Linked DNA regions of Homo sapiens. The protein of the gene in region 1 purifies or fractionates together with the protein of each later gene. This does not show direct contact. Each region holds a gene or a part of one and is shown in the gene's direction. Other genes may lie near its edges.

Region 1 (5,252 bases):
TTTAGTAGAGACAAGATTTTGCCATGTTGTCCAAGCTGATCTCAAACTCCTGACCTCGAGTGATCCTCCCACCTCAGCCTCCCAAAGTGCTGGGATTATAGGCATGAGCCGCCATGCCCGGCCATATTTCTTATTTTATTTATTTATTTTCCCCCCAAGGACCGTGGAGATTCTATATTAAATCTTTTATTTCTAACTTTATTAAATATTATTGTATTTTTAAAAGAACACTTCATGAAATTACCCACAGAATAGTTTAAAATTGTGCTTTTGATACCTTTCTGCCCTATACGTTAAGTGACAGCAGAGGAAAAGAGGTCATTCCTCTGTAGCCTTTGTTCTTTTTTGTAAACTTTACCTTTGTTTCTTTCCCTTTATGTCATCTCCCTTCATGTAAATAATTAAGAATCAAATTCACTTTAAAGATAAAATTAGACTTACTGTATTAATGTATTAATCGAGGCCAGGCACGGTGGCTCATGCCTGTAATCAATCCCAGTACTTTGGGAGGCTGAGGCAGGCGGATCACCTGAGATCAGAAGTTCAAGACCAGCCTGGCCAACATGGTGAAACCCTGTCTCTATTAAAAATACAAAAATTAGGCCAGGCGCGGTGGCTCATGCCTGTAATCCCAGCACTTTGGGAGGCCGAGGCGGGTGGATCACGAGGTCAGGAGTTCGAGACCAGCCTGGCCAAGATGGTGAAACCCCGTCTCTACTAAAAATACAAAAATTAGCCAGGCATGGTGGTGCATGCCTGTAGTCCCAGCTACTTGGGAGGCTGAGGCAAGAGAATCGCTTGAACCCGGGAGGCAGAGGTTGCGGTGAGCAGAGATCGTGCCATTGCACTCCGGCCTGGGCGACAAGAGCAAAACTCCGTCTTAAAAAAAAAAATACAAAAATTAGCTGGGAATGGTGATGCACACTTGTAATCTCAGCTACTTGGGAGGCTGAGGCAGGAGAATCGCTTGAACCTGGGAGGCAGAGATTGCAGTGAGCCGAGATGGTGCTACTGCACTCCAGCCTGGGTGACAGAGCGAGATGCTGTTTTAAAAAATATATATATAAATTGTCAAATAGCACTCTCTTTTAGCTACATATGGGTAAGCCAAAAGGTAATCTTGACAGCATTTCATTATGTCTTTTAGTAAGCATTTTATTTATTTTTCAGCTAAAGGTTATAGTGAATTCTCTGAAGAATATGATAAATACATTCGTGCCAAGTGGAAAAATTATGCAGGTGGTGGATGAAAAATTGGTAAGAGATATTATTTCTCACAATAAATGTTAAGCACATAGAAAATGCGCTGTTATTTATTTAAAGGCATAATTCAGCAACCTCTTCGCAGGGACTTGGGCAAATCTGCATGAATCTAGCTCACTGTCAGAACTTCAGAGGGACTTAAATTTGGGGAATTGGTAATATTAGGGTTACAGCATAGCAAATTATGGTTTCGTAAAAGGGGATGGGACTACATTACGACATTGGGCAAATAACCATATTTCATCTGGGAGTGTGGTATTTCCTTCCCTTTATGTAGTGAGTTCACTATTGAAGACTTGGTTTTTTTTCTTAAGTGTCTCAGGGACATCCAGAGATTTTTTTTTTGTAGATATGAGCAAATGACATACTCAGCCTGGCCCCTTATTCTGTAGAGTTCCTCAGTAGCTCTGACCCTGAAACTCATTTGGGCTGAGTGTTTCTGTGCAATCACCAAACCATTTCATTTTCATCCTCATCATGCAGGAAGACTCCATTTCTCAGCCCCGTTTTTGTTGACGCAGAACCAATGAAACACCTAGGGCCTGGCCCCTAGAACTGTTAAAGGGATCCTCATTGCTCTTGATGGCAGATTTTGGGCATTAATGACATTTGGGGTTGGGCAGCTTTTTTTTTTTTTTTTTTTTTGAGACCTCATCTCACTCTGTAGCCCAGGCTGGAGTGCACTGGCATGATCATAGCTCACAGCTGCCTTGATCTCCCAGGCTCAAGGGATCCTTCTGCCTCAGCCTCCTGAGTAGCTGGGACTACAGTCACGTGCCGCCACACCCAGCTACTTTTCTGAATTTTTAGTAGAGACGGAGGCTTGCTGTGTCACCCAGGCTGGTCTCCCAACTCCTGGGCTCAGGCGATCTTCCCGCCTCAACCTCCCAAAGTGTTCTCCCAAAGTGTTGGGATCGTAGGTGTGAACCGCCATGCCCGGCCTGGGTTGGATATTTCTTTGTCGTGGGCTTGTCTACATTCCAGGATGCCCGGCCTGGGGTGGGTGTCTCTTTTTTGTGGGGCTGTCATGTGCATTGCAGGATGTTTAGCAGCTCAGGATGCCCGGCCTGGGGTGGGTGTCTCTTTTTTGTGGGGCTGTCATGTGCATTGCAGGATGTTTAGCAGTGTCCCTGGCCCTTACCCACTGGATGCTGGTAACACCCCCTCAGTTGTGACAACCAAAAATGTCCTTAGATGTTACCAAATCTCCCGTGGTCGAGAATCATTGCCCTAGCGGCTGAGTGCTGTGGCCACATCCTCCCTATGACACTTGTACCTGCCAAGCACCAAACCCATTATCCCTCACGTGCATGCTCTCGGAGCTTTTGTTTCAGGCTATCCTTTATGTTCATACTTACCGGACTTCCTCAAAACAAAAAAATGCTGGCAGGAGCAAAAGAGGATGAGGCCCCCACGTTCCCCGTATGCCTTAATCTCCCCTCTACTCTGAATGTTATCAGGGAGGGCAACATTGCAGAGAGTTTTTGTGCCACGCCTTGGAATCGGACAATACTGGGTTTTAAGGCTGGATCAGTCACATACTAGCCTTGTGTCCTAGGGAAAGTTTCTTAACCTATGAAACCTCAGTTTTCTCATCAGGGAGAATAATAATTACTAATATATATTTCATATGGTGGTTGTAAGGGTTAAATGACATACTGTGTATAAAGCATAGTGCTTGGATGTAATAAGTGTTTAATAAATACCCATTACGTCACATTTGTTTGTTAAATGGCTGGAACATTCCACTTGGGGAATGCTTTGAGTTCCTAGGGAGAAAAAAAATATGTTTAGGTGACATTACATGTAATTACCAAGTTGGTTAAAAAAGTGAGATTCGTGAATTTTAAGCAGATTATCTCAGCAAAAGGCCGTGAACTTAAGTTGTGATCTGGATGTTAGTAGTTGCCATTGAGAATAAATATATGATGTCCACCACTGAATTTGCTCAATGTCTCTGGTTTGCTAAAAGAATGCAGTTACTTCATCTTAGCTGAAGATCAGCCATTAACCATGACACAGGGCTATGGATAGAATAGTGCAGGTTTATCTCTGTGAGTGTGGGAAGGAAATGGTAAGAACGGTATATGCCAGTGGCTAGAGGGTGAATTCGTGCAGAGAGATAAGGAGTGCTTGTTATGATGTTTTTGTGGTGTGGGTCAGGTTAGGTCATCCAAGTGGAATTACTCTCGTTCCTGCCTTCTCTGGAGAATGATGGAAAAATAAGGCAGGAAAAACAATCTGAGAATCTGGTCTCTGTATAGGGGCCCAATATTCAGTATTACATAGAATCTTTTTATAACTACATGATGTAAAAATGCTTTAAAAAATAATTCCTATCACTTATTATGATAGCAGTATCTAGAAAAAATTATATGTCCAAGAACTAGATTTCAAAGCATGCTTTTATTATATTTGTTTATATTATATTATATATTTTTTATTGTTATTATGTTAAATGCTTTTATTAATATATTTGTTTTCCAGCCTGGCCTACTTGGCAACTTTCCTGGCCCTTTTGAAGAGGAAATGAAGGGTATTGCCGCTGTTACTGATATACCTTTAGGTAAAGTTCACTTAGAAGCTTTAAAAAAAAAAGTAATTAAATTCTTTTACAAGTTTCCATTGAGGTGTGATATACATACAGCACAGGTGCTGTATGTCTTAGATATACAGCACAGGTGCACAGGTCTTAGATATACAGCTCAGTGAAGCTTCAGAAATGCATGCATGCATGTAGCCATGACTCAGATCAAGATACGGAAGAGCCCAGCACTCCACGATGCTCCATCATGCCCCTTTGCAGAAAATACTGCCTCCTCCAGTAAACACTATTCTGATGTCACTATAGATTAGTTTTGCCTCTTCGTGAACTTTGTATAAATAGAACTGAACAATATGAACTGTCCTGTGTGATTTCTTGTATTTCATTATGGGTGGTGTGCTATTGTATCAACAGGGTATTTGGGTGGTTTTCAGATTTGTGATATTAACAATAAAGGAATTATAAATATTGTAGTACATTTTGGGGGTGTCTGGGTACTCATTTTCTGGATATATACCTAGGAAGTGAACTGTTGTGTTATAGAGTAATTGTGTGTTTAGCCTTATAGATTCTGCCAAACAGTTTTCCAAAGTGATTCCAGCAGTTGACAATCAGCAGAGTATGAGAGTTTCAGTTTTCTCCTCTTGATAATTCTCCTCTCGATAGTGTCAGTCTTTTTTTTTCCTTTTTTTTTGTTAGTGTCAATCTTTATTTGAGCCTTTTTGTTGAGTGTCGCAGTATCGCATTTTAGTTTCAATTTGCATTTCCTTGATGATTAATGAGATTGAACAGTTTATTGACTTTTTTTTTTTTTTTTTGGTTTTCTTTGTTTCTTTTGGAGAAGGGCTTGTGAAGGTCTTTTGCCCTTTTAAAAATTAGATTGAAGGAATTTTTTACATACTTTGAATATAAGCCCTTTGTCAGATATATGGATTCTGAATATCTGCTCCCAGTCTATGACCTTCATTTTTATTCTCTTACTTTTGTCTTTTGATGAACAGAAATTTTTAATTTTAGTGAAGTCTAATATCTCAGTCTTCTCTTTTATGAGTAGTGCCTTTTGTATCCATTTAAGGAATCTTGGCCTACCCCAAAGTCATATATATATGCTTATATATTTTCTTCTAGATGTTTAATGTTTACTTTTTACATTTAGGCCTATCATCTATTTTGAATTATTTTTGTATATGCTATGACTTATGGGTCAAGCTTCAGGTTTTTCTCATGTGGTATATCCAGTTAGTTAAACAGCATCAATTCAAAAGGCTATCCTTTCCTCAGCAAATTGCAGTGGTGTCTTTGATATAAATATACAATACATATATATATACACACACACACACACACACACACACACAATGTGTATCTGTATATACAATCAGGTGATTGTATATATGTTGTTTTGTTTGGGGAATTAAGTTTCATTTACATATTTGTCTTTTTG
Region 2 (5,252 bases), on another chromosome or scaffold:
AATGATCTGATTTTATGCTTGGAGTCCATGAAGCAGGGACAGATGAGCTAATGGAAATAGACTGAGTGGGGAAACCCAGCAAAGCCTGTCCACATTCTTCTTGGCCTCTCTGTTGTAGCGTTTCTTCCTCCCCAGTATGGGGTAGGACCTCTTTGGAATGAGGGTCTTAATTTCTTTATGGCCAGCTGTTGTATAGAAAGGTGGTTGAGAGGAAGGTTAGAGTCATATTTTTTGGCTTTATGGCTGGCTTTGGGGGGAAAAGGGTTCTAGTTTCTATGACTTGCCTTGGGGGAGTATGAGGGGTGAGAGACAGGAGGGCAGGAGAAGGTCAGAGAGAAACTTTGCTTCTGAGGCCTTCATTTTTGGGTTTTGTTTTCTGAGCCCCAACACATACAACCTAATCACCTAAATATATTAAGACATAACATGGTGTATCTTTGACCAAATTAAGATAGAAATCTGTTTTTTTTTTTTTTTTTTTTTTTTTGGAGACAGAGTCTCACTCTGTCACCAGGGTAGAGTGCAATGGCACGATCTTGGCTCATTGCAACCTTCACCTCCTGGGTTCAAGTGATTCTCCTGCCTCAGCCTCCCGAGTACCTGAGACTACAGGTGGGTGCCACCACGCCTGGCTAATTTTTGTATTTTTAGTAGAGACAAGGTTTAACCATGTTGGCCAGGATGGTCTTGATTTCTTGACCTTGTGATCCGCCCGCCTTGGCCTCCCAAAGTGTTGGGATTACAGGCGTGAGCCATTGCACCCGGCCATAAGATGGAAATCTTAGTGGTGACAAATAAAATTTAGATCTTAGTTTAAAAAAACATAGTCAATAATATATTCAATTTTATAGTCTGCTCTCTTTTTCAGGTAACATAAGCATTTTCTTTCTTCCTTTTTTTTTTTTTTTGAGACACGGTTTTACTTTGTTGCCCAGGTTGGAGGGCACTGGCACAATCTTGGCTCACTGCAACCTCCACCTCCCAGGTTCAAGCAATTCTCGTGCCTCAGCCTCCTGAGTAGCCGGGATTACAGGTGCACGCCACCACACCTGGCTGATTTTTTGTATTTTAGTAGAGATGGGGTTTCCCCATGTTGCCCAGGCTGGTCTCGAACTCCTGAGCTCAGGCAATCCGCCCGTCTTGGCCTCCCAAAGTGCTGGGATTACAGGCGTGAGCCACCGTGCCCGGCCACATAAGCATTTTCTTTTTTTTTAACTTTTTTTTTTGAGACGAAGTCTCGCTCTTGTCCCCCAGGCTGGAGTGCAATGGTGCTATCTGGGTTCACTACAACCTCTGCCTCCCGGGTTCAAGCGATTCTCCTGCCTCAGCCTCCCAAGTAGCTGGGATTACAGGCGCCTGCCACCACGCCTGGCTAATTTTTGTATTTTTAGTAGAGACAGGGTTTCACCATGTTGGCCAGGCTGGTCTCGAACTCCTGACCTCAGGTGATCCGCCTGCCTCAGCCTCCCAAAGAAGCATTTTCTTATACAAAAATTTATTAGGCATAATGTGACTTGTACGAATGTATGCCAGTTTTCTTCACCATACCTCTACGGCATTTTTCCATTTCGGTAACTTTTACAAAGAGAGTCATTTGAACAGTATAACAGTGCCAGAATAAGGTATAATTAAAGCACAGTTTATTTGCCCCTTAATCCTGCAGGAAAGGTGAAGTCCAGTGGAACATAGACCTTGTCTTTTTGTTTATCTCCATATTCCTAGGACTTGGAAATATGTCAAGCATGTAATAGATGTTCAAATAAACATTATATATGTAATATATGTATATATATAATTTATTTATTTATTTATTTCAGACGGAGTCTCACTCTGTTGTCCAGACTGGAGTGCAATGGTGTGATCTTGGCTCTGGGTTTGGATTGACAATGTTTTAAGCTATAAACATAGGTCAGATAGGTGGGTGCCCTGGTGACTAGTGAAGATGTGCGATGGCATTGAATGTGATCAACTGTGTTGTGTAGAGAAAGGTAGGCCCAGGGACTTAGGGAGGCCATCTGGGATGGAACATGTATATTTTGAATAGCTTCAGTTTACTCAGCCTGACCATGGTCAGCTAGTTCAAATGGAATTCACAGCTCTGACGTGTGATAACTTTAGTTAAGATAGTTTGTTTTGAAAGGTAAGCAGAGGAAACCACAAAATCAGAATGGGCATTCCTTTGAGGAGGACAAATAAGAAGTGGGTAACTGAAATTGTTCCTACCCGAATGCATTTGTGCTGAATTTCCAAGTATGTAAAAAAATTGTGAAATTACAAATGAAAGTGAAATTTATAGTTATTACCTTTTGTTAGTTACTGTCTCTCTCTCTCTCTCTTTTTATTTTTTCTTTTTTGGTACCGAGTCTCACCCTATTGTCCAGGCTGGAATGCAGTGGTGTGATCTCAGCTCACTGCAACCTCCGCCTCCCGGCTTCAAGTGATTCTCCTGCCTCAGCCTCCCATGCAGCTCATGTAGCTGGGACCACAGGCACACGCCACCACGCCCGGCTACTTTTTATATTTTTAGTAGAGACATTGTTTCGCCACGCTGACCAGGATGGTCTTGAACTCCTGACCTCAGGTGATCCGCCCGCCTTGGCCTCCCAAAGTGCTGAGATTACAGGCATGAGCCACCGCACCTGGTCTCTCTTTTTATTTTTGAGACAGGATCTTGCTTTGTCACCCAGGCTGGAGTGCAGTGGCACAATCACTTGGCTAACTGCAGCCTTGACCTCCTGGGCTCAAGCAATCCTCCTGCCTCAGCCTCCCCAGTAGCTGGGACTACAGGTGTGTGCCACCACACCTGGCTAATGTTTTATTTTTCTTTTGTAGAGAGGGAGTCTCACTATGTTGACCAGGTTGGTGTCGAACTTCTGACCTCAAGAGATCCTCCCACCTCAGCCTTCCAAAGTGTTGGGATTACAGATGTGAGCCACCATGCCTGGCATTATTTTTCTTTTTCTGTAACTGTAATTTTATATTGTGGTCTTACTCAGTTGCCCATTTGCCTGCCATGAGTACACAAATAATACTGTTTATGGTCTACTTTCACATACATGGTGAAATTACAAGAGCAGAAGGCCCCTGTACACACTCAAGGGAAAAACAATAGTACTCAAAGTAAAGAAAATCAAGTTATTGGGCTTCCTATAAAACAAAAGGGTTTGAATCAGAAAGCAGCAGAAAAGTCAAATAAATTTTCCTTATGACTGTCAACTTAAAAATCACAAGATCTATAAATTTAGAAAGGAGACTTTCTTTTTTAAAACATTTTCTTTTCTTTTTTTTTTTTTGAGACAGAGTCTCACTCTGTTGCCCAGGCTGGAGTGCAGTGGCGTGATCTCAGCTCACTGCAACCTCCGCCTCCCAGGTTCAAGTGATTCTCCTGCCTCAGCCTCCCGAGTAGCTGGGATTACAGGCGCATACTACCATGCTCGGCTAATTTTTGTTTGTTTGTTTGTTTGTTTTTTTTTTGAGACAGAGTTTCGCTCTTGTCACCCAGACTGGAGTGCAATGGTGCGATCTCAGCTCACTGCAACCTCCTCCACCCAGGTTCAAGCAATTATCCTGCCTGAGCCTCCTGAGTACCTGGGATTACAAGTGCCCACAACCACGCCCGGCTAATTTTTGTATTTTTAGTAGAGATGGGATTTCACCATGTTCGCCAGGCTGGTCTTAAACTGCTGACCTCAGGTGATCCACCCGCCTTGGCCTCCCAAAGTGCTGGGATTACAGGTGTGAGCCACTATGCCCAGCCTAACTTTTGTATTTTTTAGTAGAGACAGGGTTTCATCATGTTGGCCAGGCTGGTCTCAAACTCCTGACCTCAGGTGTTCCGCCTGCCTCAGCCTTCCAAAGTGCTGGGATTACAGGCATGAGCCATTGCACCTGGCCAAAATTTTTCTTACCTTTCGAGTCGGAGTCTCACTCTGTTGCCCAGACCGGAGTGCAGTGGCACGATCTGGGCTCACTGCAACCTCTGCCTCCCAGGTTCAAGTGATTCTCGTGCTTCAGCCCCGCAAGTAGCTGGGATTACAGGTGCCTGCCACCACACCTGGCTAATTTTTTATTTTTAGTAGAGACAGGGTTTCACCATGTTGGCCAGGCTGGTCTCGAACTCCTGATCTTAAGTGATCTGCCTGCATTGGCTGCCCAAAGTGCTGGGATTATAGGCGTGAGCCACTGTGCCTGGTGACTTTATTTCTTTTCTTTTCTTTCTTTCTTTTTTTTTTTTTGAGGCAGAGTCTTGCTCTGTCACCCAGGCTGGAGTGCAGTGGCACAATCTCGGCTCACTGCAACTTCCGCCTCCTGGGTTCAAGCCATTCTCCTGCCTCAGCCTCCCTAGTAGCCAGGATTACAGGTGTGCACCACCACACCCAGCTAATTTTTGTATTTTTAGTAGAGACAGGGTTTCACCATGTTGGTGAGGCTGGTCTCTAACTCCTGACCTCGTGATCCACCTGCCTCGGCCTCCCAAAGTGCTGGGATTACAGGGGTGAGCCACCACGCCTGGTTTACTTTATTTCTTTGCAGGCTGTAACAGCCTGCAAAGGGGCCATCCCACAGGCTGGGAAGCACACGTTTTAAAGAGACAGGGTCTCGCTATGTTGCCCAGGCTGTTCTCAAACTTCTGGCCTCAAGTGACCCTCCTACCTTGGCCTCCCAAAACCAGAGGCAGGCACTCTGAAGGAGGGTTCAGTTTTATGCTGAATGGGTTGGCTAAATATACATATTCAACAGGTTACAGGAGGAGCTATGAATATTCATGAAGGTGGTCCTGACTCATGTGTATTGAATAAACATGAAAATAGCATATGACCCCTGTTCACTTTGGGGATGGAGACTTAACATTTAAATGAATTTCAGTTAAGCCCTATGCATCAAAAGATCTTTCCAGGACATGAAGGCACGCAAGTCCACAGCCTCTGTAAACTGGCCAGAGCCAGTCCATGGTTGGTGGTCTTATCAGGAGAAAGTTACTCAAATCAGTCTCTTGTCCAATAAAAGCTGTAGTTTTGACTGGTGTAACAGGACTCAGTCAGTCAGCATCTGTGAGCTAGATGAGTTGTAATTATTTTAATATTGCTTATTTAAAAACAGTTTTTATTTTTTATTTTTTTGAGACAGAGTCTCGCTCTGTTGCCCAGGCTGGAGTGCAGTGAGCCACTGCACCTGGCAAGACTTTTTTTTTTAGAGTAATTTTAGGCTCACAGCAAAACTCAGTGGAAAGTACAGAGTTCCCATACACCCTC
Region 3 (5,252 bases), on another chromosome or scaffold:
ACAAGGTTTTTATATAACAGATGTTCACTGTTTGTTGGGGAGAATGATTTATCCCCAGATACCATACGGATGAATCTTTGCAGTTATTCTAAAATGAAGATACTTATGGTAATTTTAGAATTGTTCTGAATTGCTTTATTCAAAGGTATTAGGTATCTCCATCAAAGTATTGCTTTTATTTCTCCCCATCTGATACCTTTAAATGGTGGTAAAGGTGGAATAACCTTTTCTATTAAGTAGTTTTTATTTTTTCTTTTTTTTACTTAAATTTCAGACTTGCAGAAAAGTAACAGTAACGTTCAACAAACACTGATCTGTCCTTTACTCAGATGTGTCAGTTGTTAGCATTTTGACACATGTGTTCTGCCTCTCACACACACATTGTTATTCCTATCATTGTTTCGTGTGCGTGGGGAACCATTTGAGGGTAAATAGCAGGCACCACAGCCTTTCACCTCTGAATCCTTCAAGATGTTCTCTTCTGTCACCTTGATAAAGTCATCAAATTTAAGAAGTTTGACATTGATACAAAGCAGCTTCATTTGTAAAATGGGAAAATTGGTTTCTCTTGCCAGTGAACTGTGGTAATTTGTGTCATGAGCATAAAGCTGAATTAGGAAAAGTTGTTGAAAGTGAGTAGGTAAACAGCTTTGTGTCTGCCCATTTTACTTCTGCCGCCCAACTTTGTGCTTTTTCCTGGCCAAGAGTGACCTCCTGTCTGTCCAAGTCTCATTTGAGTTCCGGGTGATGGGTCCACAGCTCTTGAGTTTATAGAATAATTCTATTTAGAAACCACTGACTCCACACAGACTGGTTTTGCTGCCCTAAAATGCCAGATTAAGGAGAATGAGACATCAGTAACATCTGATTTTAATACCCAAGTAAATTGTTACTTTGAGGTCTTGTTTGTTCCTCCACTCATTTATCAGCTTTTTTTTTTTTTTGAGACTGAGTCTCGCACTGTCACCCGGTCTGGTGTGCAGTGGCATGATCTCTGCTCGCTGCAACCCCTGCTTCCCGGGTTCAAGTGATTCTCCTGCCTCAGCCTCCCGAGTAGCTGGGACTATAGGCATGCACCACCATGCTCAGCTAATTTTTGTATTTTTAGTAGAGAGGGGATTTCACTGTGTTGGCCAGGCTGATACGGAACTCCTGACCTCGTGATCTGCCGGCCTCTGCCTCCCAAAGTGCTAGGATTACAGGTGTGAGCCACTGCACCCGGCCTCATCAGCTCTTTAGTGAGTGCCTTCTGTGTAAAGGCACTATAGCAGGCAGCACAGATAGAAGTGAATATCAGGGTCTTTGTCCTCAGATACTCAGTCTAATGGGGGAGACAGATGTACCTACTGACGAGGGCAGGAGGGGACCCAAGGGAGAAAAGGTCACTTCCAAGCTGGGATAATTCAGGAAGAACTTCACTTGAGCCGAGTCTTAGAAGGAGGATTGGATCTCTTCATTCATTTGTCTGATGTGTATTAAGCATCACTAGTGCGGAGCACTTTGCTAGGAGCTGGGAAGATTAGTGGTTAACACAGCGTCTGCCTCAGAGCCTATAGTCTTGTGAGGGAGACAGGTATTAGACAGGTAAATTCACATGAACCTAGAAGAATGCATTGTGATAAGTGCCCCAGAGGAAAAGAACAGTCATTAGAGAGGATAATAGGAAGGAGTGTGTGGCTGGTGGGTGTTTGTGTAGTCCTTTCTGAGCAAGTGACATTCAAGCATTTTCTACTGAACATAATTTATGAACATGACAGAACATTCAAGTGGGACAAAGAACTATAAGAAAAGTCTCCTTCACATCCCTCCAGAGTAACCACTGTTAAGAATTGTTTGTATTTTTTTCCAGAAAATGTGTTATGATAAACTTTCACGTATCTCCTTCTCTGTCATCTAGTTACCCCTTTAAAAAAAACACACAAATGAGCTCATGCTATACATAATATTCTTCCCTTACTATTAACTCGTTTTGAAGAAGTGTTTATATCAGCTTACGTGGGCCTATAGAATTTCTGTAATAATAGCAAGCTGTACAGAATTGTATTATGTGGCTACACCATGCTTGCTGACCCATTCTTCTTCTGATGAACATCTTGTTTTTCATATTTTGGTAACAAATGTGTCTTGGTCTACTTGTATAAATACGTACTTCATTTAGATAAATTCTTAGCAGTGGAATTTCTGGATTAAGGTGTACACGTTTCGGCCAGAATTCTCTGTTGCAAGCAGTTGAGTCACTGGATGATTTAAGGAAGAGAGGGATTTTTGAGAAAAGTATAGCAGGTGGCTCACAATGTAGTTGGGAGGGCAAGAACTGGGTTTGGGGCCAAGAACAGTGTCTCAGTCTATGCTGCGGGCACAGCTGGTGCCGGACCCTGGCTGCCACAGAACTGAGCCTTCCTGCCATCCCTTCCACCACCAGAGAGTTCCTCATGGGGAAGGTGGGTGCTTCTGATTGGTGAAGCTCAGCCTCAGCTCAGATGGCAGTGGAATTCTCCGGACAGAGGCAGGAAATACAGCTGCTGGGCAGCCCAGAAAAGGGACAGTGCATTTTACCTTTTGAGAGCTATTGCCAAATTGCTGTCCAAAAAGCTGGCACGAGTTTATACTCCCACTAGAGAATACAAGGACGCTTGTCTCCCACCACCTCACGGATGCTGAGTATTTTTGCCAGTCTGATGGGTGAAAGTGGGAAGAAAGAACACTTAAACGCCTGAGGGATGAGTAGGAATTTGCAATGCACCCCTTACCCCCGAGGGATAGACCTCAGGCCTGTGGTGCACAAGGGCTCCGTGTGGTTAAGCACTGAAAGGCCAGAGTTTGCTGCATGGGTGCGGCAGGAGCAGTGAGTGGGGGTGGGGCAAGGGACCCATGCAGGGGGTGCAGCAGAAGCAAAGATGGGGAGGGTGGAAGAGGGATGGATGTTGGGAGTTTGGAGCAGAGGCAAGGCTGGAAAGCAGGCCTCGGGGGTCCAGACGCTGCAGGCAGAGCTGTTTTGATTTTGTCCTGGAGGTCTCCTGCTCTTTCAAGCCAGGGAATGAGAGGATTAGGTTCGCTTGTTAGAAGGAGCAGCTGACAGCTGTGGGGAGCAGTGGCGTGAGAGGCCTGGGGCAGGGAGGGAGCTTGCATCCTGGCCAGAAATGTTGAGGGTGAGGACGAATCCAGTGGTGGTGGCGGTAGGGATGGCCACTGTCATTACAGAGACCTCTCAGACAGCAGCTAACCCCTGGGCCACATCCTGGGTTTCTGTCGTCATTCTCTCCTGGCGTTCCTCAGCGCCAGCTCCTTGCGGCTCTTGGCTGCAGTGTTGCAGTCACGCCTTCATTTGGGGCCATCTCCCTTTTCAGTTGGGCTCTAGGCCCTTTTTCTCATCTCATTTCCTGTTCTTCCTTCCCTTGTGCCCTGGGCTTCAGTGGCAGCAGCCCCCTCGCCCTCCTCTGAAGAGAGCCTAACAGCTGTTGCTGCCTCCTTTCAGAAACACATTTTCTGCCTGGAGTGTTCCTCCTCCTCATCCTGAGTGTGGCCCAGAAGCCATTCCCTCCTGGCTGCCCCTGGCGGAGTTAGCAAGTCCCTGCCAGGAGTGAAGCAGGATCCCAGGACTCCCGCCTTGGCCCCACTTTGCTTCCCCTAGGCATTGTCCCTCCTGCCCCTGCACAATTCTAGACCTCTGAGAGCAGCTTCTGTGCCTCACTCTCAGGGTCTCACGGAGCCCTGTGCAACTCAGTGAATATTTGATGGTGAATTAATTTTCTGATTCTCCAACTTGTTTGTGCTAAAGAATGTCTGAAACTTAGTGTTAGAAACCTTAGCCGCTGTTCATTGTTTGTGAACTAGCAGTTTGCAGCACCCCTGGAATGCAGTTGGTTTAGATTGTGTTCCATTTGTGTGGTCCCAGTTTAGCTGTAAAGTGTTGTAAATGTGACAGGTCCTTTTACTTTTTTTTTTTTTTTTTTGGTTAAAGCTTAGTATTATTTTGAATTTAAAGCATATTTATGGGAATGTCTCTGTGCCAGAGTCTGCTGGGTGCTGGCACATTATTTTCAGTTAAAATTCAGTGTAAGGGATGCTATTATTGCTATTTTACTGACGAGAAACCTGAAAGTTAGAGAGATTTAGCAACTTACCTAGTGTCACTCAGCCCCATAAGTGACAAAGCTGGGATTTGAACCCTTGTCTTCCATCTCTGGCAAGCCCCAGTACAACACAGCTGCTGTGATTTTATCATCCTACAGATGTGATTTCACTTAGCTATTAAGCCTTGCTTCTGAATACTAAAAATATTTATACAGATTCCCGAAGGGCACTTACTGGATTTTGTATTTTTGACTGTTCTCTGCATAGGTTCTCTGTCCTGCATGTTGAAAACAGTATTTACTGAAACAGCCTTATTGCAGCAAAGGAAATTAAACTATATATATGCATATATATCTCCACAATTTTACTACCCAAAAACAACGTGATTTTTACTTTTTGTTTCTTTCCAATCCAAGTCCATTGTGAAGAGGAGCTCTTTACAGAGAATGTAAGATCACGGTTTTGTACTCGCCTGGGCTTTGTCTCTGTGGCTCTCTTAGTTTCTTTCAGCCATTGTTCCGTGGTCGTAGCTGTGCAGGGCTGGCTTTCTTCCTAATCTGAGTTTGATTTTTGTTGTTTTGTCTCTTTTTTCTTTCCCTAACCTTCTTTCACCCCTCCCCTCCCTGCCTTCTTTACCCTTTCCTTTCGAGGGAGTGAGGAGTTGGGTATTGAGAGAGAACTCAGAATTGCTAAAATTTGGTGGTTTTTTTTTTTTTGAGATGGAGTCTCACTCTGTTGCCCAGGCTGGAGTTAAGTGGCTCGATTTTGGCTCACTGCAGCCTCCACCTCCTGGGTTCAAGTGATCCTGCCTCCGCCTCCCAAGTAGCTGGGATTACAGGCGTGTGCCTATAATTAGCCACGCCCTGCTAATTTTTGTATTTTTAGTAGAGACGGGGTTTCACCGTGTTGGCCAGGCTGGTCTTGAACTCCTGATCTCAAGTGATCCACCCGCCTCGGCCTCCCAAAGTGCTGGGATTACAGGCATGAGCCACTGTGCCTGGCTGGATTTTGTTTTAACTCATGCTTATTATTTTGAGTGAGCTACAAACCAAACCTCACACTCCAGATAAAATAGAAGGTCCTCCTAAATGAAATGCCTCCATGGAACATTAGCATTCACTGTGGAATCAAGGCTTTCTGTAATTGTAGCTTAAGTGAGAAAATGAATATTTCATCTG
Region 4 (4,266 bases), on another chromosome or scaffold:
CGCTTATGCAATACACACCAGTCTCCCAACCTCACCAAATTCTTACAATTGGTTGGGAGGGGGGTGGCTCTCCACACCTTTTTGAGAATCACTGAACCTGACTTCATGCTCTTCCAGGGAAGAACCATAATGTATTTAGAGTGATCATGTAAATTCATTCAAAAGGGAGATTTAATGGTGATTTAACATGCCAGACCCTAAGTAAGCAAAAGTTAAAGAAAAAAAAAGGAGGCTAGTAGTTCTCAATGTCAAGTACTTAAGAGTTGTTGCATGAATACTGGAGATAGTCAAATGAGCCAGTGGCTCTTTAACAATATAGGGAATTAGGAGCAAGTATGAGATTCTGATTATAAAGTTGTAGGAAAACTAACTTCCCAGAAAAATGCACATAGAATTATGTATACAATGTCAGGCGAGTTATGAACTCTGAAGCCCAATCACCTACCACCAGATCCACAGACCTCAGGTTAAAAACCCACTAAAACTAAGTTCTCGGGGAACAGGAATCGCCAAACTTGCTTACTAATTCTAATTATGCCTTACCCAGGGCAATGTATACAAACACTACTTAGGGAATATTTGCTGATCGATAATTTCCTCATAAAAATAACCATAACACTGGCGAGTCGTTTTTTCCACTAAAGAGCCTTTTAGTCAAATTATTTTAAAAGTCCTAAACCTTTCACTAGTAACACCAATGATCTCGAAAATCATTATTGCGCTATTCACATGTCGACTAAGCTATCACGAATCCAGGTCTTCCAGTTGTCTCTCTACTCCCTTAAAATTTAGGGCTTCCTCCTTCGCATCCCAAAAGCTACACCCGGAGCCCCGCTGCCGCCAGGGAGACAGAAAATGATGCTCCACGAAGCACACAGCTTCAAAACAGGAAAGATGGGATCCAGTGATGGCTACAACTTCCAAACCCTTTTCTCACCAGGTCCAGAGGTGAAGGGATTTACCTCAAGTTCCAGGAAAGCGGTGGCGATTGCTCTCAAATACCTGGTACCTCCCCGTCACCATAGTGACTTCTAAGAGTTACGCTCCCTTCCTCTTCCCGCGATACTTCTACGCGGCACGTCATCCGAGTGGGCCCGAGACCCCGCCTCTCGGCGAGCCCGCCCTCTTCTGAAGAGGCGTTTCTGGACCACTGAGCCCCGCCTCCCACTGTGAGCGGAACCCTACCGTTTTTAAAAAAATCTTTTTCAAAACTTGCCAGGTTGTCTTTCCAAATATTTTTAATAATAGTGCTGCTGCTGTAGACCACAGAGAAAAGAATCCCTCGCTCTTCCTTTTCACTTAGTAGAAACTTCTACCGCGTAGGTCCCGCCAGGAGTTCGCGCATGCGCAGGAGCGACAATAAGATGGCGGTGATAATCGCCGCACTTTTTTTCAAATTAGTGGATCCCAGAAATCATTGCGCGCATTTGTAACGAATTTCCGTTCGAGTTTGTATTTTAGGCGCCATTTTCGAGTGAAGGACCCGGAGCCGAAACACCGGTAGGAGCGGGGAGGTGGGTACTACACAACCGTCTCCAGCCTTGGTCTGAGTGGACTGTCCTGCAGGTAAAGTACTTCTCTTCCTGGTCAGGTTGTCACGCTCTTACTTCCTGCCTTGTCCGCGAGCGCCTGGAAAATAGAGGCCTTGAGCCCGAGCGGCGAAGTCCGGGCTTGAAGCTGCCGCTGGGAGATTTCTCTTGCTGTCACCCCTCCCCCCTCGGCCGCTCCCCGGCGGCCCGGGCTCCCGCGCGCAGCTCCCGGGCGCCACTTTTCCAAGCTACTCAAATGTCTCGGGGAGGCCCTGAGCCTCGCAGATCTTTTCTTTAAAAAATCCTAGTCTCTATCTGGAAAAGGGCGTCTCCCCCTACCCCTCTTCCTTCTGCCAACGGACTAGTCACCGGGTCTCAGCCTTCGCTGGTGACCTTTCATGGTTTACTGTCCAACGGGACTCCGCCTGGGGAGCTGGAGAGACAAACTCTTGCCACTCCAAAATTAGCAAGCGCTGCCAGCGTCCGACTTGAAGTTGCTAGTGGTTAGTCCCAGCCTTCGCCCTTCGCGGTCCGACCGCTGAGAGGAGGGAGACTTCGTTATGCCCCGGGCCGTCAACGGCGCCAGGAGCTAAAGGGCGGGCAGACGAAAGCGGGCGGCGAGTCGCCAGTTAGTCTTCACCGCTCTGGAGAGAGTTGCTAGCCACGGGATCCTGACCCGGACACGAACTCGTTTCTCCACGTCGGTGCGCGCTTGCATCCCTGGCCCCGAAAGCGTGGGAATGTCCGGAAATGCTGGCGTATGGGAGTTCCTTAATTAGAAATGCGTTAGCGAATATTATACGCTTATACTATGGGCGGACGGGTGGAGAGCCTTAAAAACAACAACAACAAACTAAGCAGTTGCTCAATCGTTGATTGATCCTCAGGCACGTCTAGATTTTCCCACTTACATAGGTCTTGTTAAGAAACCAGTCCTGCCTTCTTGCCACTCGTGTCTTTCGATGGCTCCCTTCCCGAAGTCCCGCTGCCTCTAAGCGGAGTGTTAAGCGGGGCTCTCGGAAGCCGGTGGACCGAGATTTCCCCGGGTGGGGCGGGCGCGGTGTAGCGGCCCGCGGGCTGACTTGCTCCCGGCTGTCCCCCGGCCCCAGCGACCATGCCCCGTAAAGGCACCCAGCCCTCCACTGCCCGGCGCAGAGAGGAAGGGCCGCCGCCGCCGTCCCCTGACGGCGCCAGCAGCGACGCGGAGCCTGAGCCGCCGTCCGGCCGCACGGAGAGCCCAGCCACCGCCGCAGGTGAGTGACCCGCCGCGACTCGGCGGGAACGCGCGCTGTGGGACTGGCAGGCAAACGCGCCCAGCCCGAGGCTGGCTGGGGTTGTTGAGCGCGGAGTTGACATCTGAAGGTCCGGTGTCGGTCCGGTAGAGGCTCAGGAAAGCCATTTGGCAACTTTGAGATAGGATTCCCGTGCAATTTTGGTGTAACGGCGCTGGAAGGGATGGGGGCGAGCAAACGGGTTCAGTTGTGAATTTTTGTTTGTGACCTGTGGAATGGTACAGGTCACAAACAAAAATTCAATATCTTTATTGTATTCCCGCTAAAATCGAGACGGTCAATCAAGAGAGCAAGTGGACTTTTTTCCCAGAGACAATCAATATGACTATGTGAGCATGATGAAAAGTTTTTTGACCCTAACCTCACCTCCGTGGTGTTAGATTGCCGTTAAAGAGAAGACGATAATTTATTTGAAGCCACTGTAGCTTTTGTGAGTCCAGGAGTTGGGTGACATTATTAAACCCTCGTGGCAGTGTCGCTGAAGTTCATGAGTTTCCAAAATGAAGGTTCCAGGTGCTCAGCGGTACGGAGAATTGCATCTAGAGCCTTAGGATTTAACCTCCTGTTTAGGATAGGCAGCAGGAAATAGCTTGTTACGGTTTTCCCAGATTTGCTCTATGATGTAGTGTTTTGACTCTTAAGAGGTATAGGTGTATAGAATTTTGTGACCGGTGGCATTTCTTTCAAGAATTTCTTTTTTAGTAAAACCAAGCTGAAGGTTTAGTCACCCCCGTGAGTTTAAGATAATAACATATTTAAGTGGAAAATATAGACTCCTAAGTTTCATAAATAACATCCCTCCATCCCCTACTTTAAAGATGGGCAGTCATTAGTTCTCCGAACTAATTGCACTAATGTAGGCTTTTCCCCCGCCGTTTGCCTTCGTTTTCCTTTCCTTTCACTGACTTAGAGACTGCAAGTGAGGAACTTGATAATAGAAGTTTAGAAGAGATTTTGAACAGCATTCCTCCTCCCCCGCCTCCAGCAATGACCAATGAAGCTGGAGCTCCTCGGCTTATGATAACTCATATTGTAAACCAGAACTTCAAATCCTATGCTGGGGAGAAAATTCTGGGACCTTTCCATAAGGTATTTGTATGGAAATAACTATTTTATAACTTTTTAAATAACTATTGTAAGGTAATACGTTTTTACAAGATGTTTCAGTTTTGTAACTATCCTAAAATTCATTCACTCCCTATTTATCCTGATAGTCTTTCTGTCTCTCTCTCTCACACACACACACACACGTTTCATATGATTTTAACACTGAAATTATCTTTTGTTTATCTGGTTATCTTTGGTACCTCTAGTTACAAAGTTTTCCATTGAATGGAGTCGGTGTGTGTTTCTGTTTGAAAGAGTATTTTCCCTTGGATAATTTTTTTTTCTTAAAGCCTTCTATGGAACCCTTAGATAATTTAACTATAAAATGAGTTTTCTAA
Region 5 (5,252 bases), about 89 Mb from region 1:
CTCTTTTTGTTTGATACAGAAGCTCAGAATTATATTTCCTTCTTTAACATATTTTTTGAGACCAAAGTAAGTGTAAGTGGCATTGATTAGATAGTATTTCTTTTTCTCTTGCATTTCCATTTACTGAGAAAGTAGTAAAAATGGCACATTGACATATAACTAGCAGATTTTTGTTAGTGTGCAAGACATTGAAGAAAGGGAGATTTGGGGTTTGTTTTGGAGTAATCTTGGGGAAACACTGGAACGTCCATAAGGTATTGTTCTTTATATCTAAGAGATGAACGTGTTCTTAATCATGGGATTGGCAGCAACTGTGAATTTTCTCTAGTCTCTGTTTTTGTTAGTCCATTTGTAATAGTGATGGGTGGATTTACCCCTGCCTTTCCATTGGTAATTCTGTAGAAGTAAAGGCTTAGGAAAATACTTTCTCTTTGTGAGGGTCCTTTGTCAAAGACTGAAAAGACTAGAGAGTGGCATTTAATTCTGCAGAGTATAGGTCATGGTACTTAGTTCCTATAGATAGGAGTTAGCAGTATATCCAAATACTTTATTCCTTAAGAAACGATTTTTTAGCCAGTGAATGCACTTTTAATTGGAAGGTCTTGGTTTTCTCAACTGTTTACTCCTAATAATTCAGAGCGTGATAAGGGATATTTTGGAGAAATGTATTCATTTTTTATTTAGGTTTAATCTTTTGGGTAAAGTAATAAATTGTATACATGGAGTATGGTTTACCAAGGGTTTAAAATTAATGTAAGAGTAATTCCAGTTTCCTCATATATACTGGGAATATATAGCTCTTTTATCCCTTTATTTTGAGAGAAGGAAGTATATTTCTGTACTCAAATTCAAATCTCTTTTTTCTATTAACTCACAGACTTTTTTTTTTTTCTTACAGTTTTCTGTATCCTCACCCATCAGGGCATGAGTAAATGTTTAAGGTTAAGGAAGCAGAAAGTTTTTAAGTCCTAGAAAAAAATATAATTGAAAAAAATAAATTTGAAAGAGTAGATTTGTGACATGAAAGAAACTATGACTTTATCAAGTGTTATTAAGATAAGCTTAGCCTTATGGCGATTTATTGTTCTCTTATTAGTAACTCCTACTCTCAGCAATGCTGATACAATTAGGTTATGACTGATCTCTTTTGTAAGCATAATTTAATTTCACTTCCACCCAGGAAGTGTTTTTCTTATAGTAAATGAAGGAGTTTTAGAATATAGATATAAGATAATTGTTAACTGGAGGGATAGAAGGAAAGCAGAGAATTAGATAAGTTATTTTTGACAATCCTTGTCTAGGAGACTATTGGATTGAAGGCCATGAAAAAAGAAAGAAAAATATAATTGGCCATTAAATATTTCTAGAGACCTGTTTTGCTGGGCATAGAAAAGCAAGCCCATGATGTTTTTTATTTTTAGTACCTAATTTTTCTTTTATCTTTATTGAAATCCTATTGTTCTTAATTGAAAGTCCTTCATTATTTTTATCTAATACTGAAATATAAAAATTAAATTCAGAATAATCAAAATGTTAAAAATAGTTGAGATGTCAAACCTGAAATATTCTCATTCAAAAATAAAAACCAAAAATTAATAAGGAGGCTCTTTGGCCATTATCATTTAGTCTCCAGGGTAATTGGTGAAAAGTAATCAAGTAAAAGTCATATGAATAATAGTAGTTCTCATTAATATGTTCTGGGCACTATACTCAGTCCTTAATATGCATTTCCTCAGTAATTCACATAAAACCAGATTTGATATGCACTTTTACTATTTTCATTGTTTTATAACAAAATTGATAGGCAATGGGGAACCCAGGTTTATCTGACACCCCCCCCCATCCGCCCCCAGAGCTAGAGAGAATAACAGCTTCTGGTTTCTAAGTACAGAGTCAGCTAACATATTGTATGCTTTGTTGCTTCACAAAATTCAATATAATAATAATGGCCAGAATGGAAATCTGTCCAGCCTCTTTTCCTTTTTTCTATTCTCATGTCTTTCAGAACTTTCAACAAGTTTACATAGCTTTTCATAGTTACCTTAATGTTTACTGGTAGCCAGTTCCTTTTAGTTGGCTAAATAAAAAGCCTTTAAAACCTAGGTTCAAAATCTAAACTCTTTATGAGCCAGTTGGATTAACTCATTTTGTGGTCAGAGCCTCTGTGCATTTTTGATTGATTACAAGAGGAACTAGTCATAGCTCAAGAGAATCGTCACATATTTATCACACCATTAGCGTTCACTGTAGTATGGTAACTGTTTTTAGAATTATGTCATGATCTGAAAAAGCTGTAACTATTATGTCAACCTGAGGAAACTTACCTGTTTTTGTGGGCTTTCTGTAATAGTGTTTATCTGTCATTTATGGCTTTCAAATTTAATACTGTGCAAGAGCCTGGTCTAGGCAATTATAGAAGATAGAAAGTTTTCCTTTGAAAGTTAAAATGTAGGAAAGTTGTTAAATTTTAGTCACAAATAAATGATACAGTAAAAACCATAAAGAAATAAAACAGGAGAGAGGCAAAAAGTGGAAAAAAAAAGTCATTTAAAGGGCTGAAGCAGACATACTTAGAAGGTACTTTTGATTAGACATACTTTTGAAAATCTAATTTTCTACTTTCTAGAGCTTATTTTTCTTATTGCCATAGGTTTTAAAATGTACTTCTATATTGTTTTCTTGCTCTTCTCTCCTCTGTTGTTTCTGTTATAGATGGGTATGTTTGTCACCTGTGCCTAGAAGAAATTCTTCCAGCATGGCCATTAGGATATAATGTTTGAGCTCACCTGATTTGGAGGGGGTAGTTGAAACTACCACTTCCTTTGTAACTGCAAGACCGTTTAGTTTTCAGACGTTATCTTTAATGTTAGCAAAGTATGTGTTTTATATAGTGTTTTCTGTATAAAAAACTATAATTTCTATTTACTAAGTTGAATCTATATGGAATAGTCCATAAAATAAACCTTACATACCAACTAGTTGGATGTAGTAGTGAAAATCATTCATGGATATTTCACTCTAGTTTGATATATAAATCTCTTGGATTTTCAACATAGAGTGGGGAAGAAATCCTAATTACAGTTCTCTTCCCATTTTAATTTCTCCTCTTTTTTTTTTTTTTTTTTTTTTTTTTGCTGTTTTTCTCAACTGTCAGTGGAATTATTGTCTTCCTGTCTCCATATTTAGGTAGTGTCAGTGGCTGAGTATCACCGCAGGATCGATGCTCTAAATACTGAAGAACTGCGCACACTCTGCAGACGCCTCCAGGTGCCCCCTTCAGTAGTTTAAACCCCTCCAGAGACTAAATACTCCCTGTTTTTAGTGTTCTTTGTCATGGCAAATCTCATTTGAAGAATTTGCTTTGACTGCAGCACTAAAATTAAATTCCTTTTTGTATTAAAGGTTATAGTATTGCCGTGAAGAGCTGTGGATTATCTTTTCTGTCATCTTTTCATTTGAAAAATATTCTGAAGAATGTTCTGTCACTTCAGAATTATTCTCAGTATTGTGTGTTTCTTTCAGCGATGAGGAGTTTTCATTCATTTAACGTTGGAAGAATGGTGTTGGTTTTGAGATTGAATCTTTTCTAAACAAAATCTGAAAGATATGGTACTATAGGAAAACTAATAAAAAATTTAATAGCAAGGCTTAAATATTTTATTTAAGGCTATTTCATTTATATCAGCGTCACATCAAATATCTCAATAGGATAAACTGTTCTTGAGGCATTCTTGGTTGGTATTAGGAGTACATTGGAATAGTACAGTTTAGACACAGAACTGGATAAATTACTTAAAATTCTGTGAAATAATCTTTGTGATTTTTTTTTTAGAAACAAGAAAGCAATGTAATTGAAAACTCATTTTTAAGTTGTGTCTATTATACTGTGTTTCTTTCTTCTTAATAAGATATGCTTTCATGGCTCTGCTAGACCTGAATTTTTTCTTTTAATGCTTCTAATGCTGCCTTGGGTTTCTTTTTCTTTTTCTTTTTACCTTTCACATCATCAAAATAAGGGTGAAACATGATGATATGAAAGAATGAGTATTTAGCTTCTTGTCAAAAAACAATACACTTATAGAACATGTATTGGTTGCAAATATATGCTGCTCAGGTTTGTTAAGAAACCTGTTAAAGGAACAAAATAATTTAGCAAGAATTTCATTCCCATATAGAATCACAGTTGCTGAGCGTTGCTGCATTTTAGTTATCTGCTCCAATAGAATTCTGCATATTTTCCAATTTAAAAGTTTCATAATGTTTCATTTCTTTTATTTTCTAATATTATTATGTTTTATATATTAAAATAAAATTAATATTAAAAAGTAAGCACCAATAGAATATATTGTGCAGTAGTAAGCTTTATTTTTACTTAGTTAACATTCTTATCGTTTTAAGAATACCAGTGAAATCATTTCCACCAAGCAAAAAAGCATGTATTCTTTGTAATGCAACACATTAATCTAATTTAAAAAATAAATTTATGAACAAATTAACAGTAAAATTTATTGTTTGGTCCAAGTAGATGAAAAAAATTAAATGTTTAGAAAGTTATAAAAAGAAAGCATTTAAAAAAATGGTAACGTTTGTCAGTGAAACAAATACATGCACAACTCACAGAAAATAGTTATTTTTTTTTATTCTACTATTCTTTACATTAAAATTTTGGCACCCAGGAAGTTTTGTTCATTATTTTTGACAAATTTTGTGTTAGCATGAAAGAATTCTATTTTAAATAGCATACACACACACACACACACACACACACACACACACACACACACACAGCGCAAGCCAGCTAGCTGACTTTTGCCCTTCAAGGGCTTAATTAAAGATGCATGCAACTATCTTCTTTACACAGAAATATGGGGATTTATCATTCCTACCAGTCGTTCCTCATGTAGTGGATGAGAAAACGTCTGCTTATATTGTTATAAAATCTTTTCCTACATTGGCTACATCATAGATATTAGATATGGGCCATCTTTTGCCCTATAAAATCTTAAGGTTAAAGATTTAGCCACATTTTCTACGATATAAAGCTTTATTTATCTGAAAAGTCTGACAATTTTGAAAGCATGTCACAAGTTTACATTAATGCACTACCTCTATTTACTGTTTTAGATTACTACAAGGGAAGACATAAATTCAAAGCAGGTTGCTACAGTGAAAGCAGACCTGGAGTCTGAATCTTTTCGACCAAACCTAAGTGATCCCAGTGAACTTTTACTGCCAGATCAAATTGAAAAGGT
Region 6 (5,252 bases), on another chromosome or scaffold:
CCCCATCTCTACAAGGGATACCAAAAAAAAATTAGCCAGGTGCGGTGGCACGCACCTGTAGTCCCAACTGCTCAGGAGCTGAAGTGAGAGAATCACCTTAGCCCGGGGAAGTTGAGGCTGCAGTGAGCGGTGATCATTGCCACTGCACAGCCTAGGCAACAGAGTGAGACCCCATCTCAAAAGAAAAGAAGAAGGAAAATAAATAAGTAAATATCCAGGAATGTTGACAGCTGTTGGATTCCCCTGTATCCCCTTGAACGAAACCATCCTGTACTTCTCTAACTCCTTAGGCCCAGCAGCTTCCACACAAGAAAAGAATCCCCGGGAGTCTACAGGAAACATGGTCACAGGACAGACTGTCTGTAAAAATAAACCCAATATGTCGGATCCTGAGGAATCCAGGGGAAATGATGAACTAGTGAAGCAGGAGATGCTGGTACAGTATCTGCAGGATGCCTACAGCTTCTCCCGGAAGATTACAGAGGCCATTGGCATCATCAGCAAGATGATGTATGAAAACACAACTACAGGTATGCCAGAGTCCCTTTCTATAAGGACAGCCTTGGGGTTCTTTTGGATTTTTTAATTTTTTAAATTTTTATTAACAATAGAGATGGGGCCTTCCTTTGTTGCTCAGGCTGGTCTCCAACTCCTGGGCTCAGGCAATTCTTCTGCGTCAGCCTCCCAAAGTGCTGGTATTACAGGTGTGAGCCACTGCACCCGGCCATGGATCTTGGAGTTCTTTTCCATATTTTATTGATATATCTATCTGCTCCTTTAAAAGGCAGGGGTTCTCGGCTGGGCGCGATGGCTCATGCCTGTAATCCCTACAAAACTGGGAGGCCAAAGCAGGAAGACAGGTTGAGGCCAGGAGTTCGAGAGCAGCCTGGGCAACATAGCAAGACCCCATCTCTACAAAGAAACAAAAACTAACTGGGCGTGATGGCACGCACCTGTAGTTCCAGCTACTCGGAAGGCTGGGCAGGAGGATTGCTTGAGCCCGGGAGTTTGAGGCTACAGTGAGCTGTGGTCATGCCACTGCACTCTAGCCGGAGCAACAGAATAAGAACCTGTGTCTTAAGAAAAGAAAAAAAAAAGGCAGGGGTTCTTTTTTTCTGTTTGCTTCCTCTAGCCACTTACAGCTTATACATTTTAATGCATATAGTATTTCATGATAAGGCATCATAGGAGGAGTCGACATTCTCAGGGAAAATGCGGAAGGCCTCCATTTGCATCTTGCTACATTCAGAAAGGTTCTGTCGTTAGGTATTGGGGGAGTTTTGTGAAGTAGATAGGTGACATTTGTACATGTTCTCTCAGTGGTGCAGGAGGTGATTGAATTCTTTGTGATGGTCTTCCAATTTGGGGTACCCCAGGCCCTGTTTGGGGTGCGCCGTATGCTGCCTCTCATCTGGTCTAAGGAGCCTGGTGTCCGGGAAGCCGTGCTTAATGCCTACCGCCAACTCTACCTCAACCCCAAAGGGGACTCTGCCAGGTATATGGGGTGCTTTTGCCTTTGCTGACTTTTCCAAGGTCAGCTTCTCACAGGACTTCCCTTGTCTCCTAAAGGAAGAGGTGCATTTCTCCAGGGGAGTTCCAGATCCATAGGCAGTCCATCATAGTGGGGCTTAGGGTGGGGCTCGGTTTCCAGGGAGAGCAGTTTTGTAGCACTGTGGTGGGATAGCCCTAATCACTGTTTGCCAAGTTCAGCTTCCCAATCTTATAGTGACCGCTGATCTCTGCTGTTCCCACAGAGCCAAGGCCCAGGCTTTGATTCAGAATCTCTCTCTGCTGCTAGTGGATGCCTCGGTTGGGACCATTCAGTGTCTTGAGGAAATTGTAAGGCTTCCTGCTTTCTCTTTCTTTATTCATTCAACAAGTATTTTGGTTGTTTTTTTTTTTTTTTTTGAGACGGAGTCATGCCCCATTGCCCAGGCTGGAGTGCAATGGCACAATCTTGGCTCACTGCAACCTCCGCCTCCCAGGTTCAAGCAATTCTCCTGCCTCAGCCTCCCGAGTAACTGGAATTACATGCATGTGCCACCATGCCCGACTAGTTTTTTGTATCTTTAGTAGAGACGGGGTTTCACCATGTTGGCCGAGCTGGTCTCGAACCCTTGACCTCGTGATCCACCCGCCTCAACCTCCCAGAGTGCTGGGATTACAGGCGTGAGCCAAAGCGCCCGGCAACAAGTATTATTGAGTTATTACTATGTATTTAGCAATTTACTTAGCTCCAGAAAGAAGTATAAGACTATTTGCTTTCATGTTCCCAACTTTAAAGGAACCAACAGTCTAGTTGGTAGTGAAAAACCACAGAACATTTTTAGAACAATGCAGCAGGTAGATAATAAAGTGCCAGAATGAGTTGTACGGGTAATGGTTGTCATAGCAATAATAACAACCTCACTTATATGGTATTGAATATATGACAGGCACTCACACGTTACTCACAGTAACTTGTTTAATCCTCACGACAGCCCTGTGAGGTAGCATTATCTGCATTTTACAATGAGAAATCTGAGGCACAGAGAAGTTACTGAACTTGGCTGGTTACAGCTAGTTAGTGGCAAAGTTTGAGATTCAAACTCAGGCAATAAGAGCTCTAGAAAACATACTCTTAACTTCTGTGTTCTACTGAGGGATACAGAGTAGGAAAGAGAGCGGTTTGGGGTAGAATGGTCAAGGAAGCTTCCTGAAGGTGGTAGGACTTAAGCTGGGTCTTGAAAGATGAGTAGGATTTAGAGAATCAGAGCAAGGAGGGAGGGCATTTCAAACAGAACCCAAGAAAGAGCACAGTTCACATTGTAGAACAAAGAAGACTGTGTTCTGGTTCAAATTATCTGGAAAAGACCAGGCGCGATGGCTCACGTCTGTAATCCCAGCACTTTGGGAGGCCAAGGCAGCAGATTACCTGAGGTCTGAGGTCAGGAGTTCGAGACCAGCCTGGTCAACATGGCGAAACCCCACCTTTACTAAAAATACAAAAAAATTAGCCAGGTGTGGTGGTGGGCACCTGTAGTCCCAGCTACTTGGGAGGCTGAGGCAGGACAGTTGCTTGAACCCAGGAGGTGGAGGTAGCAGTGAGCCGAGATTGCGCCACTGCACTCCAGCCTGGGCGACAGAGGGAGACTCTGTCTCAAAAAAAAAAAAAAAAAAAAAAATCTGGAAAAGATAATAAAGTTGTGAATGTAGGTTGGAACTAAACTGTGGAAGTCCCTGAATGACTTCAGGAGTCTAGGACTTTAACTGTGTTAGCCAGGCACCCAGCATTTTAGTGAGACATTCTGCTTTGTAGCATTTGCATTGCGGGCACAGAGAGTGGAGGTGGCGCTGGGAAGCGTGCTCCTGCCAGCCACATTTTTCTCCTCACTGGGGAAAAGAAAAGAGCCTGGTGGTGGTGATTGGCCATGATGTCATAGGTCAGTTACCGGCAAAAGCCCTACAAGAGGCAGGGGAGAGCACCTGCAAACTGGGGTGCAACAGAAGGGACGTGGGGAAGCAGAGGCTGAGGAGACCAACCCATGGGAAGGAAGGCCCGTGGAGGCTGCTGCAGTGGGCAGTAACGAGGGGCTGGACTTGAGGATTGGAGAAATCACTGCAGAATGGGCTTAATGGAAGACAAATTTTTAAAGGAAAAATAGTGACTGATTTGTAAAAAAATTAGATGACCGAAATTTTAAGCACATATTACTGATAGAGTGTTGATACCACTGGCAAAATGAAAAGGCAAGGAAGGATGATGGCTTCCATGTTGGACATGTTGAGTTTGTGGTAACGGCAAGAAAACCTGTTAGAAATCTCCAGACTTAGAACTATGGACCCACGTGGAACTCAAAAGGTCAGTTTCGATATGTCACTTGAATAAAATAGTTTTGAAGGCATGAGAGTAGAAAAGTAGAGAATGGAAAGCCTCTCAAGACCCTGCTGTACATTTTGAACCTCCTCTTTTCTTTTTCTCTTCCTAAGTATTACTTTTGTCTACTTCAGGTTCGCAATATCATCTTCAGAAAAGCAGACCAAAGATCAAGGAATTGTTCATTTTTGGCTTGAGCCCTTTTTCTTTTCTCTTTAGCTCTGTGAGTTTGTGCAGAAGGATGAGTTGAAACCAGCAGTGACCCAGCTGCTGTGGGAGCGGGCCACCGAGAAGGTCGCCTGCTGTCCTCTGGAGCGCTGTTCCTCTGTCATGCTTCTTGGCATGATGGCACGGTGAGGCTCAAATCTAGCAGGCAATGGGGTGGGAGAGCAAAGGAAGGTTCTGAGAGGGCTCCTTTTCCTTCAGTGACATTGTCACAGTGAGGCCCAACTGAGCTCTGCTGTGAGTTATAACGCCACCTAAATGGAAAAGCAAATAGTGAGAGGACCAGCCCTCCTGCCTAGTAGTAGTGGGATTCAGTAAAGCAACAGGACCCAAGAGGCTGGCCCTGCGGCAGAGCCACGCTATAGTGCTCCACGGCTCTAGACACCACATGAGGTGCTGGTACCTACCCCTATTGGCCCTTTCTCCCCCGATGAGTCCAATCCATGACTGCCTTTAACTCTGTGGCTTCCTTCCCCTAGAGGAAAGCCAGAAATTGTGGGAAGCAATTTAGACACACTGGTGAGCATAGGGCTGGATGAGAAGTTTCCACAGGACTACAGGCTGGCCCAGCAGGTGTGCCATGCCATTGCCAACATCTCGGACAGGAGAAAGGTATGTGGGGGTGGTTCCAAACTAAGGAGAGTGGAGATTCTCGTGTCCACCCTGTACACACACCCACGTTGTCTTGCTCTCCACAGCCTTCTCTGGGCAAACGTCACCCCCCCTTCCGGCTGCCTCAGGAACACAGGTTGTTTGAGCGACTGCGGGAGACAGTCACAAAAGGTGAGCTCTCAGGGAAGGCCTTGGGCAGAATTGGGCCCTTTGTTGCAGTAAACAACTTCTCCCTCCTCCTCTGCAGGCTTTGTCCACCCAGACCCACTCTGGATCCCATTCAAAGAGGTGGCAGTGACCCTCATTTACCAACTGGCAGAGGGCCCCGAAGTGATCTGTGCCCAGATATTGCAGGGCTGTGCAAAACAGGCCCTGGAGAAGCTAGAAGAGAAGAGAACCAGTCAGGAGGACCCGAGTAAGTGGGCAGGGGTTGACCCACTGCGGCAGCCAGCTTCTGTTCTCCCTGCAGGGCCAGGAGCCACTGCCACCACCACTATCTGCAACAACCCTTAGTGTACACTGTGTCGTTTTTGTCTAAGTTGAAGTTGGGCCAGTTCCC

The links.
Region 2: the proteins of ASAH1 (region 1) and CTPS2 purify together in Homo sapiens (affinity purification with mass spectrometry; one large-scale study listed by BioGRID and IntAct). This does not show direct contact.
Region 3: the proteins of ASAH1 (region 1) and PSMB7 fractionate together in Homo sapiens (co-fractionation; one large-scale study listed by BioGRID). This does not show direct contact.
Region 4: the proteins of ASAH1 (region 1) and SMC4 fractionate together in Homo sapiens (co-fractionation; one large-scale study listed by BioGRID). This does not show direct contact.
Region 5: the proteins of ASAH1 (region 1) and OXR1 fractionate together in Homo sapiens (co-fractionation; one large-scale study listed by BioGRID). This does not show direct contact.
Region 6: the proteins of ASAH1 (region 1) and NCAPD2 fractionate together in Homo sapiens (co-fractionation; one large-scale study listed by BioGRID). This does not show direct contact.

The regions. Positions count from the first base shown.
Region 1 is NC_000008.11:18,065,797-18,071,048, reverse strand, and holds part of ASAH1 (acid ceramidase isoform a preproprotein), read left to right. Parts: intron 1-1,170; coding exon 1,171-1,257; intron 1,258-3,750; coding exon 3,751-3,829; intron 3,830-5,252. UniProt on the Homo sapiens protein: Lysosomal ceramidase that hydrolyzes sphingolipid ceramides into sphingosine and free fatty acids at acidic pH.
Region 2 is NC_000023.11:16,705,084-16,710,335, reverse strand, and holds part of CTPS2 (CTP synthase 2), read left to right. Parts: intron 1-495; exon of another isoform or gene 496-525; coding exon of another isoform or gene 526-612; intron 613-1,817; exon of another isoform or gene 1,818-1,917; intron 1,918-2,838; exon of another isoform or gene 2,839-2,927; intron 2,928-5,252. UniProt on the Homo sapiens protein: Catalyzes the ATP-dependent amination of UTP to CTP with either L-glutamine or ammonia as the source of nitrogen. Constitutes the rate-limiting enzyme in the synthesis of cytosine nucleotides.
Region 3 is NC_000009.12:124,397,711-124,402,962, reverse strand, and holds part of PSMB7 (proteasome subunit beta type-7 precursor), read left to right. Parts: intron 1-5,252. UniProt on the Homo sapiens protein: Component of the 20S core proteasome complex involved in the proteolytic degradation of most intracellular proteins. This complex plays numerous essential roles within the cell by associating with different regulatory particles.
Region 4 is NC_000003.12:160,398,184-160,402,449, forward strand, and holds the start of SMC4 (structural maintenance of chromosomes protein 4), read left to right. Parts: upstream 1-1,466; 5' UTR 1,467-1,566; intron 1,567-2,375; exon of another isoform or gene 2,376-2,638; 5' UTR 2,639-2,643; coding exon 2,644-2,782; intron 2,783-3,731; coding exon 3,732-3,910; intron 3,911-4,266. UniProt on the Homo sapiens protein: Central component of the condensin complex, a complex required for conversion of interphase chromatin into mitotic-like condense chromosomes.
Region 5 is NC_000008.11:106,734,334-106,739,585, forward strand, and holds part of OXR1 (oxidation resistance protein 1), read left to right. Parts: intron 1-3,186; coding exon 3,187-3,267; intron 3,268-5,124; coding exon 5,125-5,250; intron 5,251-5,252. UniProt on the Homo sapiens protein: May be involved in protection from oxidative damage.
Region 6 is NC_000012.12:6,521,508-6,526,759, forward strand, and holds part of NCAPD2 (condensin complex subunit 1), read left to right. Parts: intron 1-290; coding exon 291-530; intron 531-1,320; coding exon 1,321-1,495; intron 1,496-1,754; coding exon 1,755-1,839; intron 1,840-4,075; coding exon 4,076-4,209; intron 4,210-4,560; coding exon 4,561-4,693; intron 4,694-4,779; coding exon 4,780-4,864; intron 4,865-4,940; coding exon 4,941-5,108; intron 5,109-5,252. UniProt on the Homo sapiens protein: Regulatory subunit of the condensin complex, a complex required for conversion of interphase chromatin into mitotic-like condense chromosomes.